Homo sapiens: one gene and its partner. The protein of the gene in region 2 purifies or fractionates together with the protein of the main gene of each other region. This does not show direct contact. Each region holds a gene or a part of one and is shown on either strand. Other genes may lie near its edges.

Region 1 (7,640 bases), on a different chromosome or scaffold from region 2:
CAGGTACAGAGGCTTGGGGTTGAAGCGGATGGAAGGCCAGGTGGCAGGAGCAGAGAGAGCAAAGGGGAGCTTGGCAAGACTGGAGAGAAAGGCGGGAAGCCAGGCCAAGTGGAGATCTGTGGGTTGGATTGAGAATTTTGACCTTTAGCCCAAGAGCTGTGAAATGGCGTAGTTCACGCCTATTTTCATGACATTATAGGCTTTTAGATTGGAGCCAGAATACAAATGGCCTTGAAGGTGAGGCCAGGGCATTTTCCATTTGAGAAGCTTCCAAGGTCAGGTGAATGGATGGTTGAGTCAGACGAGGATCCTTCAAGTTCTGAAAACCTGGGACACTGTGGTAGGCAGTGGGGACCAGCGGTGTGGGAAGGGGACTTCATAGCAAGATCAATCTGTAATGTTCAGAGTAGGTACACTCACTTTGGGCATGAGAGATAGGGGGCAGCTAGGTGGGATCTGTTGGCATGGGTCAGAGCAGTGGTAATGAGAGCTTGTAGAGGTGAAATGGACAAGTCTTCCGTGTAAACTGGTTTGCTCTTGGAAAGGTGGGGGATGGTGAGGGAAAGAAAACTAGATCCTGTCTTGGGTGGTTGAGAGGACAGTGATACCATTAACAGACACAGGGACACAGGAGCAGGTGTTAGACATTTAATTGCATGCATGCTGAGTTTGGGGTGCTCTCAGAGTACACACCTGGCAGATGTTAAGTTTGGAGTCATCGACCTATGAGGGAGATTGCCAGGGAGCTCTCTCTGAGAGTCCACATGGAAAGCCCAGAGGATTGGATAAGAGCTACTTGTTGCAGGGAACAGGCAGTCCTGACACTGGTTGTCTCAAATAGTGTCACAGGTGAGTGAAGGGACTCCCCTGCTTATTGTGGACATTCCCTTTGAGCTGATTCTAGGTGATGTCAGTGCTGTTTCCTGGGTAGACAATTATGACTTTGGTCCTGATGATACCATTATATTTTGTGGGCTTTGGGATTTTGCATTTTTAAAAATGAAAGTAGGAGGAACTTATGACTCTGGTCTTTTAAAAAAAACTCAGTAGGCCAGGCGTGGTGGCTAACACCTGTAATCCCAGCACTTTGGGAGGCCGAGGCGGTGTATCACGAGGTCAGGAGATCGAGACCATCCTGGCTAACTTGGTGAAACCCCGTCTCCACTAAAAATACAAAAAATTAGCCGGGCGTGGTGGCGGGCACCTGTAGTCCCAGCTACTCGGGAGGCTGAGGCAGGAGAATGGCGTGAACCCGGGAGGCAGAGCTTGCAGTGAGCCGAGATCGCACCACTGCACTCCAGCCTGGGTGACAGAGCGAGAGTCCATCTCAAAACAACAACAACAACAACAAAAACTCAATAAAATTTTAGTCGAGGCCAAGCGCGGTGACTCACGCCTGTAATCCCAGCACTTTGGGAGGCTGAGGCGGGCAGATCAAGAGGTTAGGAGTTGAGACCAGCCTGGCCAACATAGTGAATCCCCGTCTCTACTAAAAATACAAAAAATTACCTGGGCATGGTGGCAGGCGCCTGTGATCCCAGCTACTCGGGAGGCTGAGGCAGGAGAATTGCTTGAACCCGGGAAGCGGAGGTTGCAGAGAGCCGAGATTGCGCCATTGCACTCCAGACCAGGCGAGGGTGTGAGACTCCATCTCAAAAAAAAAAAAAAAAAAAAAAATTTAGTCCAAGTATTCTTTTGGGGGCAAGAGTGAAATGTTGGTTTTGATTGCAGTGGCTTGTATCTTGATTGAACTTACAAACCTCTTTGTTATTAAAAGACATTAAATGAATACCTTTCTGATTTAGAATGGCATCAAGTTGGAGTGTTTTTTGAGCTTTTTAGTCCTGTAAATCCTGTGTTATAATTGCCGTTATAGGGTTTTTTCATTAATTGAAGGGAACGTAGGCTAACGAGGAGTGGATTTCCCTAAGGTTATCACTGAGTGCAGACTATGTGCCACAGAGCATTTTCATGTACATTGTATTATTTAATCCTCAGGACAACTCTGAGGGTGTTATATAAAATTTAGATTATTGAATTATTGTAGTTAGTAACATTTTTTCTAAATAAAAGATGACATAGAAATGACTGATTTTAAAGGATAAGTTAAAGGATGTCAGTTTAATAAAAATACCTATAGAATCTTTGGTGTGTGATTTCTAAGGCAGTACCACTTTCGTTCATTCTTATGTGAATCTTCATAATTCAGTGATCATTTTTTTCTACTTGTAAGGTCACCAGTGTAATTTTTCTTCGAAGGATAAATATGCCCATAGGATAAATTAAGCTCATTTTTGAATTTAATATTCATTCAATTCTTTTAAGTTCCTGCTGTAGAAAATGTTTGGGAGAATTGAATAGAATAATCTGGTGAATTGGATTGAGCCTGATAATGTTAAGATGTACCTTCTGTAGAAAAAAAAAGAAAGGAACTAAGCACTTATCAGACATCTGTTTTGTGCCCAGCACATACAGTAATAATAGTGGGTGGGTGTAGTAGCTCACACCTGTAATCCCAACACTTTGGGAGGCAGAGGCAGAAGAATCACTTGAGCCCAGGAGTTTGAGACCAACCTGGGCAACAAAGTGAGAGCTCCTCACTACCAAAAAAAAGAAAGTTAGCTGGGTGTGTTGGCATGTGCCTGTGGTCCCAGCTACATGGGAGGCTGATGCAGGAGGATGGCTTGAGCCCAGGAGGTTGAGGCTGCAGTGAGCCATAATCATGCCACTGCATTCCATCCTGGGCAACAAAGCGAGACCCTTGTCACAAAAAAACAAAGCAAAACAAAAAATATGTATATAGTGCCAACTGCCTATTAGAAATAACTCCCTTTTAGTCCTTAGAGTGAAGTTATTCCCATTTCACAGATGAGTAAACTTGGATGTACTGAATAACTTGTCCAAGGTCACAGAAGTTGTGCAAAATTGAGATTTGAACTCAGGGTTGTCTAATGCCCAAACCTGTGTTCTTTTTATTATACCATTTGGCGTCTCATTTTTTTCTGAGTCCAGTCACTCTTTATGGACGTTCTTTGAAGGACTGACCTAATTCCAACAAACATTTTGAGAAATAAAGGAAGGAAAATAGATTTTTACAATAGGAAAGCTAACATTTTAAAAATCTTAAATTCACTTCAGTCTCTCTGGCTGACGATCTGAGGACATAAATACCTTTTTAACTAATGAAATGAAAATTCTTGCCTGGGCGCAGTGGCTCACGCCTGTAATCCCAGCACTTTGGGAGGCTGAGGCGGGCGGATCGCCTGAGGTCAGGAGTTCGAGACTAGCCTGACCAACATGGTGAAACCCCGTCTCCACTAAAAATTCAAAAAATTAGCCAGGCATGGTGGCGAGCGCCTGTAATCCCAGCTACTCAGGAGGCTGAGGCAGGAGAATCGCTCAAATCCAGGAGGCAGAGGTTGCAGTGAGCCGAGATTGTGCCATTGCACTCCAGCCTGGACAACAAAAGCAAAACTCTGTCTCGAAAGAAAGAAAGAAAATTCTTGAAAACAAAATGTGAAGAAGTGAAAAGTTAAAACTTTTTTCTTATAGTAATTACTAAGTGATGTCAACCTCAAGCCCTAAATTTATGTTCACAAGTCCAGTTTAGGCTGATCTGCTTTCCCCAGTGCAATGTAAGTTCCATGAGGGCAGGGGCCTGGAGCATAGTTCACAAGTCCAGTTTAGGCTGATCTGCTTTCCCCAGTGCAATGTAAGTTCCATGAGGGCAGGGGCCTGGAGCATAGTTCACAAGTCCAGTTTAGGCTGATCTGCTTTCCCCAGTGCAATGTAAGTTCCATGAGGGCAGGGGCCCAGAGCATAGTTCACAAGTCCAGTTTAGGCTGATCTGTTTTCCCCAGTGCAATGTAAGTTCCATGAGGGCAGGGGCCTGGAGCATAGTTCACAAGTCCAGTTTAGGCTGATCTGTTTTCCCCAGTGCAATGTAAGTTCCATGAGGGCAGGGGCCTGGAGCATAGTTCACAAGTCCAGTTTAGGCTGATCTGCTTTCCCCAGTGCAATGTAAGTTCCATGAGGGCAGGGGCCTGGAGCATAGTTCACAAGTCCAGTTTAGGCTGATCTGTTTTCCCCAGTGCAATGTAAGTTCCATGAGGGCAGGGGCCTGGAGCATAGTTCACAAGTCCAGTTTAGGCTGATCTGCTTTCCCCAGTGCAATGTAAGTTCCATGAGGGCAGGGGCCTGGAGCATAGTTCACAAGTCCAGTTTAGGCTGATCTGCTTTCCCCAGTACAATGTAAGTTCCATGAGGGCAGGGGCCTGGAGCATAGTTCACAAGTCCAGTTTAGGCTGATCTGCTTTCCCCAGTGCAATGTAAGTTCCATGAGGGCAGGGGCCTGGAGCATAGTGAGCAGTAAATATCTGTTGAATGAAGGAATAAAATTCTGTAATTTACTTCTTATGACTTTTAAAAAAGTCGTCTTTACCCACATGACTGCCATATATGTCTTCTGTCCTTATATTGCTCCTGAACTTCTCTGTCATCCACTGTTTGGTGGGCATCTTTTATTGTCACCTCATACTGAATCATGTATAACACCAAACTTCTATCCTCATTGAAAAAAATAGTCTTTTTCTTTGTACTTCCTTATTTGTTTTAGCTAAATCCAAATTTAGCTAACCAAAGGTCAAAACTTAGCAGTAATCTTTGGCTCTTTCTACCTGTTTGTTTTTTTCTGCTCTCACACTGTATAAATTTGTTTCTTTCCATTTCTTCTGCTGCCATTCTAATGTACCTAACCCTTCACCTCATTGCTGACCTGCTTCTGTTGCACTTTTACTGTTTTCTTACACCTGCAGAGTCTGCTTCACACTTTGTCATATCAGTCTTCTAAAAAACATGTGTCTCTATGCACACGTATGTTTATTGCAGCACTATTCACAATAGCAAAGACTTGGAACCAACCACTGATGGGCTATCCAGCCCATCAGTGATAGACTGGATAAAGAAAATGTGGCACATATACACCGTGGAATACTGTGCAGCCATAAAAAATGGTGAGTTCATGTTCTTTGCAGGGACATGGATGAAGCTGGAAACCATCATTCTTAGCAAACTAACACAGGAACAGAAAACCAAACACCGCATGTTCTCACTCGTAAGTGGGAGCAGGGAGGGGAACATCACACACTGGGGCTTTCGGTGGGTAGGGGGATAGGGGAGGGATAGCATTAGGAGAAATAGCTAATGTAGAGTATGGGTTGATGGGTGCAGTAAACCACTGTGGCACGTGTATGTCTGTGTAACAAATCTGCACGTTCTGCACATATATCCCAGAACTTAAAGTGTAATAAAAAACAAAAACATGTGTCTCTTATTTTGCTTCTTTTATTACCTCTAAAATGATCCTCAGCAGAAGGATCCCATTCCTTTCACATCCCTTTTTTTCCTAACCAAATCTTTCTACTTCGTAGTTTTTCTGTGTTTGCTAAATTCAGCACCTCCCTCCTCACTGCTCCCCCATTCTTTCTTTTCATCTCTACTTACCAAGGCCCACCTTCAGTTCTCTATAATCTATAATTCATACCCTTTTTTTTTTTTTTTTTTTTGAGAGACAAGGTCTTATTCTGTCATCTAGGCTGGAGGGCAGTGCTCCTGGGCTCAAGTGATCCTGCCACCTCAGCCTCCCAAGTGGCTGGGATCACAGGCCAGTGTGCCCAGCCAATTTTTAAATTTTTTGTAGAGATGAGGTCTCACTATGTTGCCCAGGCCAATCTGGAACTCCTGTCCCCAAGAGATCATCTCGTCTTGACCTCCCAAAGTGCTGGGATTACAGGCATGAGCCACTGCACCTGACCCCTATTATCTTCTTTTGAAATGAGTCATCTGCTAATTCACTTCATAAATATCTGCTGAATATTGTGTGTTAGGTACTGTGCCCTTCCTTGAGGATATGAAGGTGTGTAAGAATCAGGCCTTGCTTTCCCCTAAGAGAAGTTATAACTATGAAGGGAAGACAGCTACGTACACAGCAATTAGAATTTCATAATAAAAATACAGGCAATATGTGGTGCTGGACTAAGATGTGATTGACTTAACTCTTTTGGGGGTTCTGGTGGAAGACATCACAGAAGAGAGGACATTTGGGCAGGTCTGAGAGGTTTAGTGTGAGTAGACCATCTGGGGGAGAAAGACATTCCAGAAGGAATGAAGAGTTGATGTGCAAAGGCAAAGAATTATGGATTATCATACTTAGTGTATTAATTTCCAAGGGCTGTTACAGTGAAGTGCCACAAACTCATGGCATAAAACAACAGAAATTTATTCTTTCATAGTTCTGGGGACTAGAAGCCTGCAATCAAGGTACTGGCAGGGCCACGATCTCTCTGAAGACTCTCAGGGAGGATCTGTTCCATGCCTTTCTCTTCGCTTCTGGAGTTGCCAGCAGTCCTTGGCATTTTGGCTTGTAGATGCATCACTTCAGCCTCTGCCTCCGTCCCTTCAATCTCATGTGATACTCTCCCTCCCTTTGTGTCTCTGTCTTTTCTCTTAAGGGTACCAGTCATAGTGGATGAACGAGTATGACATCATCGTAACTTTGTTGCATCTGCCAAGACCCTGTTTCCAAATAAGGTCACATTCACAGGGACCCAGGGTTAGGACTTTGACATATCTTTTTGGGGAACACAGTACAACCCACAGCACCTGGAGAACTGAATGTAGGTGCCTGTTGTTGGAACATAACTTGTGAGGGGTGTAATGGAAGGAAGGGGGTGAGGTTGTAAGGTTATAATGGCCTCTTTTTGTCCCTTCCCAACAATCTCCAGCTTCTGGGTTTATGCTTGACCTAGGATAAGCCCTCAGGGCATTCCAGTTTCTGGCCGTGCTGATTGTTTTGAAATGGGTTTATGATTGATTTTAATGGACTCAATCAGAGTGAATCTCAGGACTTTTGTCGGAGATCCCTTTCCTCTGTGGGCGTTTAGAAGGACATGTGTTGCCTTCTTTTCTGTGTGGCGAGGCCATAATGCCTAGAACTGTTAAGAGTTAGCGTTGCTGCTGTAAGGAATTCACCTCAGGTCAGAACAACTCCCAGAAGATGGAGGATGGCAGAGAAATGGAGCCGGAGACCTGATAACTTTCTGAATCTCTGGATCAAAACTTGCCTGAAGGTGTAGTTTTTGGTTTGTGAAGTACTGCAGTCCATGTTTTTCTTAAGCCGGTTAGAGTTGGATTTCCTTCCACTTACAGTAGAACAATTCCTAACATACAGAGGGAGGGAGGTAGAGCCAGCTGACTAGGGTTAGTCAGTTAGGGCTTCTGTAACAAATTACCATAGACTTTACCTCGATGAAAGGTTCCCAAGATGGGCAGATGCTTTTTATTTACCGCAGTATAGAGGACAGGTATGTACGCAGGAGAAAAAGGAGAGTGTGTGTTTATGATCAGAACAGTTTTGATCATATAAATGTGATTAAGTGATTTAATACATTTGTAGGTTATTTTTATCTTAAGAAATACAGAAGTGAGTACCTAGTGTTATGATTGAACAGAAATCTTACACTGGTTTTTCTTGTTAATACAATCATATTTCCAAAACTGAAATGAAACTATAGTTGTACTTTTTGAAATACTTGTGTCTGGAAATTGGCCATTAACTTACTATGATACTTGTTTCCCACTTA
Region 2 (8,280 bases):
CCCGTTGTCAAAATTGCAGTCCTTTGGGACTGGGGGCAGCGGGAACTCCTTATGCTCCCCCTTCACCACCAGCTCGGTCGGGCACCAGCAGGGGTTGAGGAGCTGGAGGGAGAGAAGAAGTGGCACTGCTGCCTTCACCAACGGTGCTGCTGAGGCTGCCTCCAGGAACATGCCAGGTGGTGCACAGGGGCCTCCCTCTTGAACCTGGTGGCTAAGAGCTTGCCCTGTCCATCCCCGGGGAGCTTTGGACCCTCCTTCATTTCTAGTTGCTAGAAGTTTGTTCCTTAGCAACGCTGATGTGACACAAAAATCCTGTCTGTCTCCCCAGGAGCAAACCTCTCCCTAACCTTAGGAGCTTAGAAACAAGGTGTTCTTAAGGTCTAGAGAGGAGGGCTTATCTTTGTGTGTCTGTGAACCATGTTTTCTTCTTATTTATTTTCTTTCTTTCTTTCTTTCTTTTTTTTGAGATGGAGTCTCGCTCTGTCGCCCAGGCTGGAGTGCAGTGGATCAATCTCGGTTCACTGCAACCTCCACCTCCTGGGTTCAAGTGATTTTTCTGCCTCAGCCTCCCGAGTAGCTGGGATTACAGGTGCCCACTACCATGCCTGACTAATTTTTTTTTTTTTTTTTGTGAGACGGAGTTTCGCTCTTGTTGCCCAGCCTGGAGTGCAATGGCTCGATCTCGGGTCACTGCAACCTCCGCCTCTCGGGTTCAGGCAATTCTCCTGCCTCAGCCTCCTGAGTAGCTGGGATTACAGGCATGCACCACCACACTTGGCTAATTTTTGCATTTTTAGTAGAGACAGGGTTTCATCATGTTGGTCAGGCTGGTCACAAATACCTGACTTCAGGTGATCCACCCGCTCTGGGCTGCCAAAGTGCTGGGATTACAGGTGTGAGCCACCGCGCCCAGCCTGTATGTTTTTTTTAGTAGAGACGGGGTTTCACCATGTTGGCCAGGCCAGTCTTGAATTCCTGAGCTCAAGTGATCTGCCTGCCTTGGCCTCCCAATCACGCTGGGATTACAGGTGTAAGTCACCATGCCTGGCTATAAAATAGGGTTTTTTTTTTTTCTAGCAACAAGGCCCCAGGAAGACCAGTTAAGCTGACCTTTGGTAACACCCAGATCCTCCCCCGGATGCACTTCCGAAATTCACAACTGCCCACTAAGCATGGTTGATAATAACTGGCTTCTCCTCAGGACTAAAGATAGATATTTGAGACAGGATCTCACTCTGTCACTCAGGCTGGAGTCCAGTGGCACAATCACAGCTCACTGCAGCCTCGACCTCCAGGGCTCAAGTGATCCACCAGCTTCAGCCTCCAAAGTGCTGGGATTATAGGTGTGACCACCGTGCCGGCCAGGCCCAAGGATACATATATATATATATATTTTTTTTTTTGAGATGGAGTTTTGCTCTTATCACCCAGGCTGGAATGTAATGGCGTAATCTCAACTCACTGCAACCTCCATCTTCCGGATTCAAGCAATTCTCCTGCCTCAGCCTCCCTAGTAGCTGGGATTACAGGCGCCCACCACCACACCCAGCTAATTTTTGTATTTTTAGTAGAGATGGCGTTTCACCATGTTGTCCAGGCTGGTCTGGAACTCCTGACCTCAGGTGATCTGCCTGCCTTGGCCTCCCAAAGTGCTGGGATTACAGACGTGAGCCACCGTGCCAGCCAGGCCCAAGAATATTTGACAGAGCAATAGGTTCATCCTAAGTAAGGAGAGCCTAGAGGCCCAGAACCCACCTCTTGGCTTGGTTAAGGAGGAACTCTTTAGCAATGATGTGAAATTGGCTGGTTAAGCTCTCATCTAGCTCCAGAGGCCATTTGTCCCCCTCCTATTTTAGGGGCACGATCCCCAGCGCTTGGGCCCGCCATGCCTCACCTGTACCATGCCCTTGGTGCCGCTCACGGAGGCCGTGTTGGAGAGCTGCACGGTGATGCTGCAGGTGAAGCTGCCATGGACCTCCCCTGGGTACTGCAGGAGCACCGTGACAGTGTCATCCACACCTGGAGGGAAGTCCTGGGTCAGGGCAGGGTCTCTCAGGGCAGAGTCTCTGAGACTGCACAGGCCCCAAATCCTGCCTGTGGAACCTTGGGCAAGAGACTTCACTTCTTGCATGGCAAGGCAAAAGAATGAAGTGCTGGCTGGTCGCGGTGGCTCACGCCTGTAATCCCAGCACTTTGGGAGGCTGAGGTGGGCAGATCGTGGGGTCATGAGATCAAGACCATCCTGGCTAACACGGTGAAACCCTGTCTCTACTAAAGATACAAAAAATTAGCCAGGCGTGGTGTAGTCCTGTCGTCCCAGCTACTCGGGAGGCTGAGGCAGGAGAATGGCGTGAACGTGGGAGGCGGAGCTTGAAGTGAGCCGAGATGGCACCACTGCACTCCAGCCTGGGCGACAGAGCGAGACTCCATCACACACACACACACACACACACACACACACACACACACACACGAAGTACAGTCTTGGCTGTGCACAGTGACTCACACCTATAATCTCAGCACTTTGGGAGGTGGAGGCAGGAGGATCCCTTGAGTCCAGGAGTTCAAGACCAGCCTGGGCAACATAGTGAGACCTTGTCTCTACAAAAAATAAAAAATTTAGTTGGGTGTGGTGGCTTGTGCCTGTGATCCTAGCTACTCAGGAGGCTGAGGTGGAGGATCCCTGGAGCCTGGGAGGTCAAGGTTGCAGTGAGCAATGATTGTGCCACTGCACTCAGCCTAAGTGACAGAGTGAGACCCCGTCTCAAAAAAAAAAAAAAAAAGCCGGTGGTTCATGCCTGTAATCCCCAGCACTTTGGGAGGCCAAATGTGTGTATTGCTTGAGCCCAGGAGGTCGAGACCAGCCTGGGCAACATGGGGAAACTCCATCTCTACAAAAAACAAACAAACATAGCCAGGCGTGGTGGCCCACATCTGTATGCCCAGCTACTTGGGGGTCTTACGGAGGAGAATCGCTTGAATTTAGGAGGTTGACGCTGCAGTGTGCCAAGATCACACCACTATATTCTACCCTGGGTGGCAAAGTGAGATACTATCTAAAAAAAAACAAAAATTACAGTCTATTTGCCCATCTCTGAAAACTGAGCTGGCCATGTAACTTGCTTTGGCCAATGGGCCAGTAGCAAATATGGTGTAATTAGAGGCCTGAAAAGTGCTTGCACATCAGGAATTCTCACACCACGATATGAATGGTATCTAGCCAGCTGGAGAGGCCAGGTGGAGGAGAATCAAGGCTTCCCAGACAGTTGCCTGCCACCTGTAAGATATAAATGAAGCCTACCAGACTGTCCAGTCCCAGCTGAACAGCCAACTGACTGCAGCTGCAGGAATAAGACCAGCAGAAGAACCATCAAGCAGAGCCCAGCCCCAATTTGCCAATGCACAGAATCACAAGCTAATAAATGATTGCTATTTGAAGTCACTAAGTTTTTTTTTTTTTTTGAGACAGGGTCTGGCTTGCCGGGGGCGGTGGCCACACCTGTAATCCCAGCTCTCGGGGAGGCAGAGGCGGGAGGATAGCTTGAGCCCAGGAGTTCGAGACCTGCCTGGGCAATATAGCGAGACTCTGTTCTCCACAAAAAGGAGACAGGGTCTGGCTCTGTTCCCCAGGCTGGAATGCAGTGGCACCATCTCAGTTCACTGCCACCTCTGCCTCCCAGGCTCAATTGATCCTCCCACCTCACCTTCCAGAGTAGCCGGACTATAGGTGCACACCACCACGCCCAACTAATTTTTTTTGCACTTTTCGTAGAGACAGGGTTTTACCATGTTGGCCAGGGTGGTCTTGAACTCCTGGCCTCAAGTGATCCGCGCACCTCAGCCTCCCAAAGTGCTGGGATTACAGGCGTGAGCCACCATGCCCAGCCTGAAGTCACTAAGTTTTGGGGTAGTGTTATGTTTTTTTTTTTTTGCGGCTGAATGTAACTTTAATGAAGCATGAACTGCCTCTTGCTCCTTGGGGTTAAAGGTCAAAGATGAAGGGCATCACATCTGGGTGGCTCAGGCACTCTTGGATACTTTCCAGCTGAGTGGAAGCCAAGGCAAGGGCCTCTTCTGCAAAGTGGGGCAGCTTTTTTTTTTTTTGAGATGGAGTCTCACTCTGTCGCCCAGGCTAGAGTACAGTGACGCCATCTCAGCTCACTGCAACCTCCGCCCCCTGGGTTCAAGTGATTCTCCTGCCTCAGCCTCCCAGATAGCTGGGATTACAGGTGCCTGCCGCAATGCCTAGCTAATTTTTGTATTTTTAGTAGAGATGGGGTTTCATCATATTGGCCAGGGTGGTCTCCAACTCCTGACCTCAGGTGATCTGGCCACCTCGGCCTCCCAAAGTGCTGGAATTACAGGCGTGAGCCACCACGCCTGGCCAAGTGGGGTAGTCTTTTTTGTAGCAAAGATTCACTGAGACAACTTCAAAAAATAATAATTTTATATTTATTAACTGCCATTTGCCTCAGCAGTTACTTCATTAACTCCCATGACAACCCTATTAGTGACACTTTACCAGTAAAGTAATTAAGATTCAGAGATGTTAAGTCTGCTGGCTAAGATCACACAGCAAAGTCCCAGGAGAGTGCCCACCTGCAGTCTTGACTCTGATCCTCTCTGGCTTCATGGAAAGTTGTTCCTCTAGGTGTCTGATCTAATTCTCATTGACTTGGAGACTTGTCCTCAGTTCAGTGCTCCCAGAGAGACAGAATCATTCCCATCACCATGAAATATTCCAGGATAGATGGTACCTGTTTCATGACGCCTTCCCACGACAGAAATCTTCTCTGGCTTCTGCCCTCCAAAGACCATGGAGGTGAACTGGACACAGTAGATGCCGATGTCCAGCAGGGCCCCCCCAGCCTGGGCCCGGTCTACGGCCCGGGGAACGTGGATGAGATTCTTCCCAAATTCTGCCCGAGCCACCCGGAGGTCTCCTAGAGTTCCCTGGGCCAAAACAGACCTCAGAGCCTCGGAGGCAGGAAAGAAGCGGGTCCAGATGGCCTGCAGACCACAAGGAAAGGAGTTAACCAACCAGTTCTAATCCCTTCTGGGGTCCCAATCATAGGGGGATACCCACTGCAACCCAGTCTCCAAACACAGCCCATCAGTCCCCAGGTTGTATCCCTCTTGCTCCTGACCCTCTTGACTTTTCTTCTTTTTCTTTTTTTTTTGAATAGAGATAGGGTCTCACTATGTCGCCCAGGCTGGTCTCGAACTCCTGGGCTCAAGCAGTCCTCCCACCTCAGCCTCCCAAAGTGCTGAGATTACAGGCATGAGCCACCGTGCCCTATTGACTTTTGTTCTTTTTCATCTGGACCATTGCCCCAGTCTCCCCATGTTATGGGATGAATTGTGTCTCTCTCCCTCTCGCTTCTGCCCTGCCAAACACAATTCACGTGTTGAAGCCTTAACTCCCTAGTACCTCTGAAAGCAACTGTTGTGGCCACAGGGTTTTCAGAGAGATAATTATGTTAAAATAAGGTCAAGGCTGGGCACGGTGGCTCACGCCTGTAATCCCAGCACTTTGCGAGTCCACAGTGGGCAGATCACGAGGTCAGGAGTTCGAGACCAGCCTAGCCAAGAGACCAGCCTGGCCAACACGGTGAAACCCCGTCTCTATTAAAAATACAAAAAATTTTAGCTGGGCGTGATGGCGCACGCCTGTAGTCCCAGCTACTCGGGAAGCTGAGGCAGGAGAATTGCTTGAACCCGGGAGGTGGAGGTTGCAGTGAGCTGAAGATCGCACCGTTGCACTCCAGCCTGGGCGACAGAGCGAGACTCCAACTCAAAAAAAAAAAAAAAAATGAGGTCATTAGGGTGGGCCCTTATCCAATATGACAATATGACTGGTGTCCTTATAAGAAGAGATTAGATGTAGGTATAGAGCATGCAGGCCAGTGGGTTTAAGAGTTACGTGTGCATCTCCTAGTGAAACTCCTTAAAGGAGGCATATAGATACAGAAGGTAGAAATAAAACTCTTTGTTCATAGATGACATCATCTATGTAGAAAAATGCAAAATGACAACAACAAAAAAAAACTCCTGGAACTGGGGGCTGGGCGCTGTGGCTCATGCCTGTAACCCCAGCGCTTTGGGAGGCCAAGGCGGGCGGATCACCTGAGGTCAGAAGTTCCAGACCAGCCTGGACAACATAGCAAAACCCCGTCTCTACTACAAATACAAAAATTAGCCGGGCGTGGTGGTGCATGCCTGTAATCTCAGCTACTCGGGAGGCTGAGGCAGGAGAATCACTTAAAGCCGGGCAGCGGAGGTTGCAGTGAGCCGAGATCACGCCATTGCACTCCAGCCTGGCGACAGAGCAAGACTCTGTCTCAAAAACAACAACAATGACAACAAAAACCAGAGTTCTACCTCTTGGAGCACCCAGTCTAGAGAGACAGAGAACAGGCAACCAAGGGATGAACAAAGGAATACCAAGGACACAAATAAAATGGAGGGTCCTTCACGCAGGACAGCCGGGACGGTGACACCCTGAGGAGGTGACATTCCAGGGGAGACGGAAGCTCCGTGGACTAGGCAAAGAGCCCAGAGAAAGAATGTCACGGGAGAGCCGGGAGAATGGGCAAAGGTCCCAAGGCTGCACTCCAGCAATTTCTTTTTTTTTTTTTTTTTTTTTTAAAGACAGTCTCGCTCTTGTCGTCCAGGCTGGAGTGCAGTGTCGGGATCTTAGCTCACTGCAACCTCCGCCTCCCGGGTTCACGCCATTCTCCTGCCTCAGCCTCCCGAGTAGCTGGGACTACAGGCGCCCGCCACCACGCCCGGCTAATTTTTTGTATTTTTAGTAGAGGCGGGGTTTCACTGTGTTAGACAGGATGGTCTCGATCTCCTGACGTCGTGATCCGCCCGCCTCTGCCTCTCGAAGTGCTGGGATTACAGGCGTGAGCCACCGCGCCCGGCCAATTTTTGTACTTTTTTAGTAGAGACGGAGTTTCGCCATGTTGGCCAGGCTGGTCTTGAACTCCTGACCTCAGGTGATCTGCCCGCCTCGGCCTCCCAAAGTGCTGGGATTACAGGCGTGAGCCACCGCATCTGGCCCACACCAGCAATTTCTAAAAATGCTGACGCAAGAGTGTCAGGGCTCACGGGGGAAGGGCGGGGCAGGACGGATGTGGCCGAGGTCCGCCCGGGCTCGGAGCAGTCGAGAGGAGCGTGAACACAGGCCTGAGGGCACTGGGGAGCCGGGGGCAGGCTCTGCGCAGGCTCTGAGCCTGGGTGTTGTGGCAGTAGGCTACTGGTGCCCCCAAAGATATCCACGACCTGATGATCCCCGGAGTCTGTGAATGTGTGACTTTACAAGGCTAAGGGGTCCTGGCGGATAGGATTACATGAAAGACCTTGAGGTAGGGGCCGGGCGCGGTGGCTCACGCCTGTAATCCCAGCACTTTGGGAGGCCGCGGCAGGAGGATCACTTGCAGTCATGAGTTTGAGACCAGCCTGGCCAACATGGTGAAACCCCGTCTCTACTAAAAATACAAAAATTAGCTGGGCATGGTGGCGGGCGCCTGTAGTCCCAGCTACTTGGGAGGCTGAGGCAGGAGAATCGCTTTAACCTGGGAGGTGGAGGTTGCAGTGAGCCGAGATCGCGCCACTGCACTGCAGGTTTGTAGGGGGTTCCTTGGTCCTTTCAACCTCTACCTGGAACCCCACCCAAACTAAGCCATTGCCATTCTATGCCACTTTCACTCTTGGCATCTTTTTCTTGTTTTTTTTTTTGTTTGTTTTTTTTCTTGTTTGAGACGGAGTCTCACTGTGTTGCCCAGGCTGGAGTGCAGTGGCGCAATCTTGGCTGACTGCAAGCTCCGCCTCCCGGGTTCACGCCATTCTCCTGCCTCAGCCTCCCAAGTAGCTGGGACTACAGGCGCCCGCCACCACGCCCAGCTAATTTTTTGTATTTTTAGAAGAGATGGGGTTTCACCATGTTAGCCAGGACGGTCTCGATCTCCTGACCCCGTGCTCCGCCCGCCTCGGCCTCCCAAAGTGCTGGGATTACAGGCATGAGCCACCGCGCCCGGCCGGCATCTTTTTCTTAAAGACTGACAAAAGATCCAAGCAATTTCAGTAAGCCTTGCCGTGTTTGCTAAGGGCCAAAAGCAATGGCTTTCACGGTAATAGATGCTGCCAAGGAGATTCAGATACATCCTGGCAAATGCACTGACCCCGTCCGCGCACTGGCAACCATATTTAATGGCAAGCACTTTTACGCTGGATATTGGAAGGGCTCCTCTGCCCTCACCTCCATAAGGAAGAGGG

The links. Proteins that work in one complex are often made in the same cells at the same time.
Region 1: the proteins of DHDH (region 2) and ATRN purify together in Homo sapiens (co-immunoprecipitation; 2 studies listed by BioGRID and IntAct, with this or other methods). This does not show direct contact.

What each region holds. Positions count from the first base shown.
Region 1 is NC_000020.11:3,473,378-3,481,017, forward strand, and holds part of ATRN (attractin isoform 1 preproprotein), read left to right. Parts: intron 1-7,640. UniProt on the Homo sapiens protein: Involved in the initial immune cell clustering during inflammatory response and may regulate chemotactic activity of chemokines. May play a role in melanocortin signaling pathways that regulate energy homeostasis and hair color.
Region 2 is NC_000019.10:48,936,179-48,944,458, reverse strand, and holds part of DHDH (trans-1,2-dihydrobenzene-1,2-diol dehydrogenase), read right to left. Parts: coding exon 8,264-8,280; intron 5,011-8,263; coding exon 4,758-5,010; intron 2,020-4,757; coding exon 1,895-2,019; intron 103-1,894; coding exon 1-102.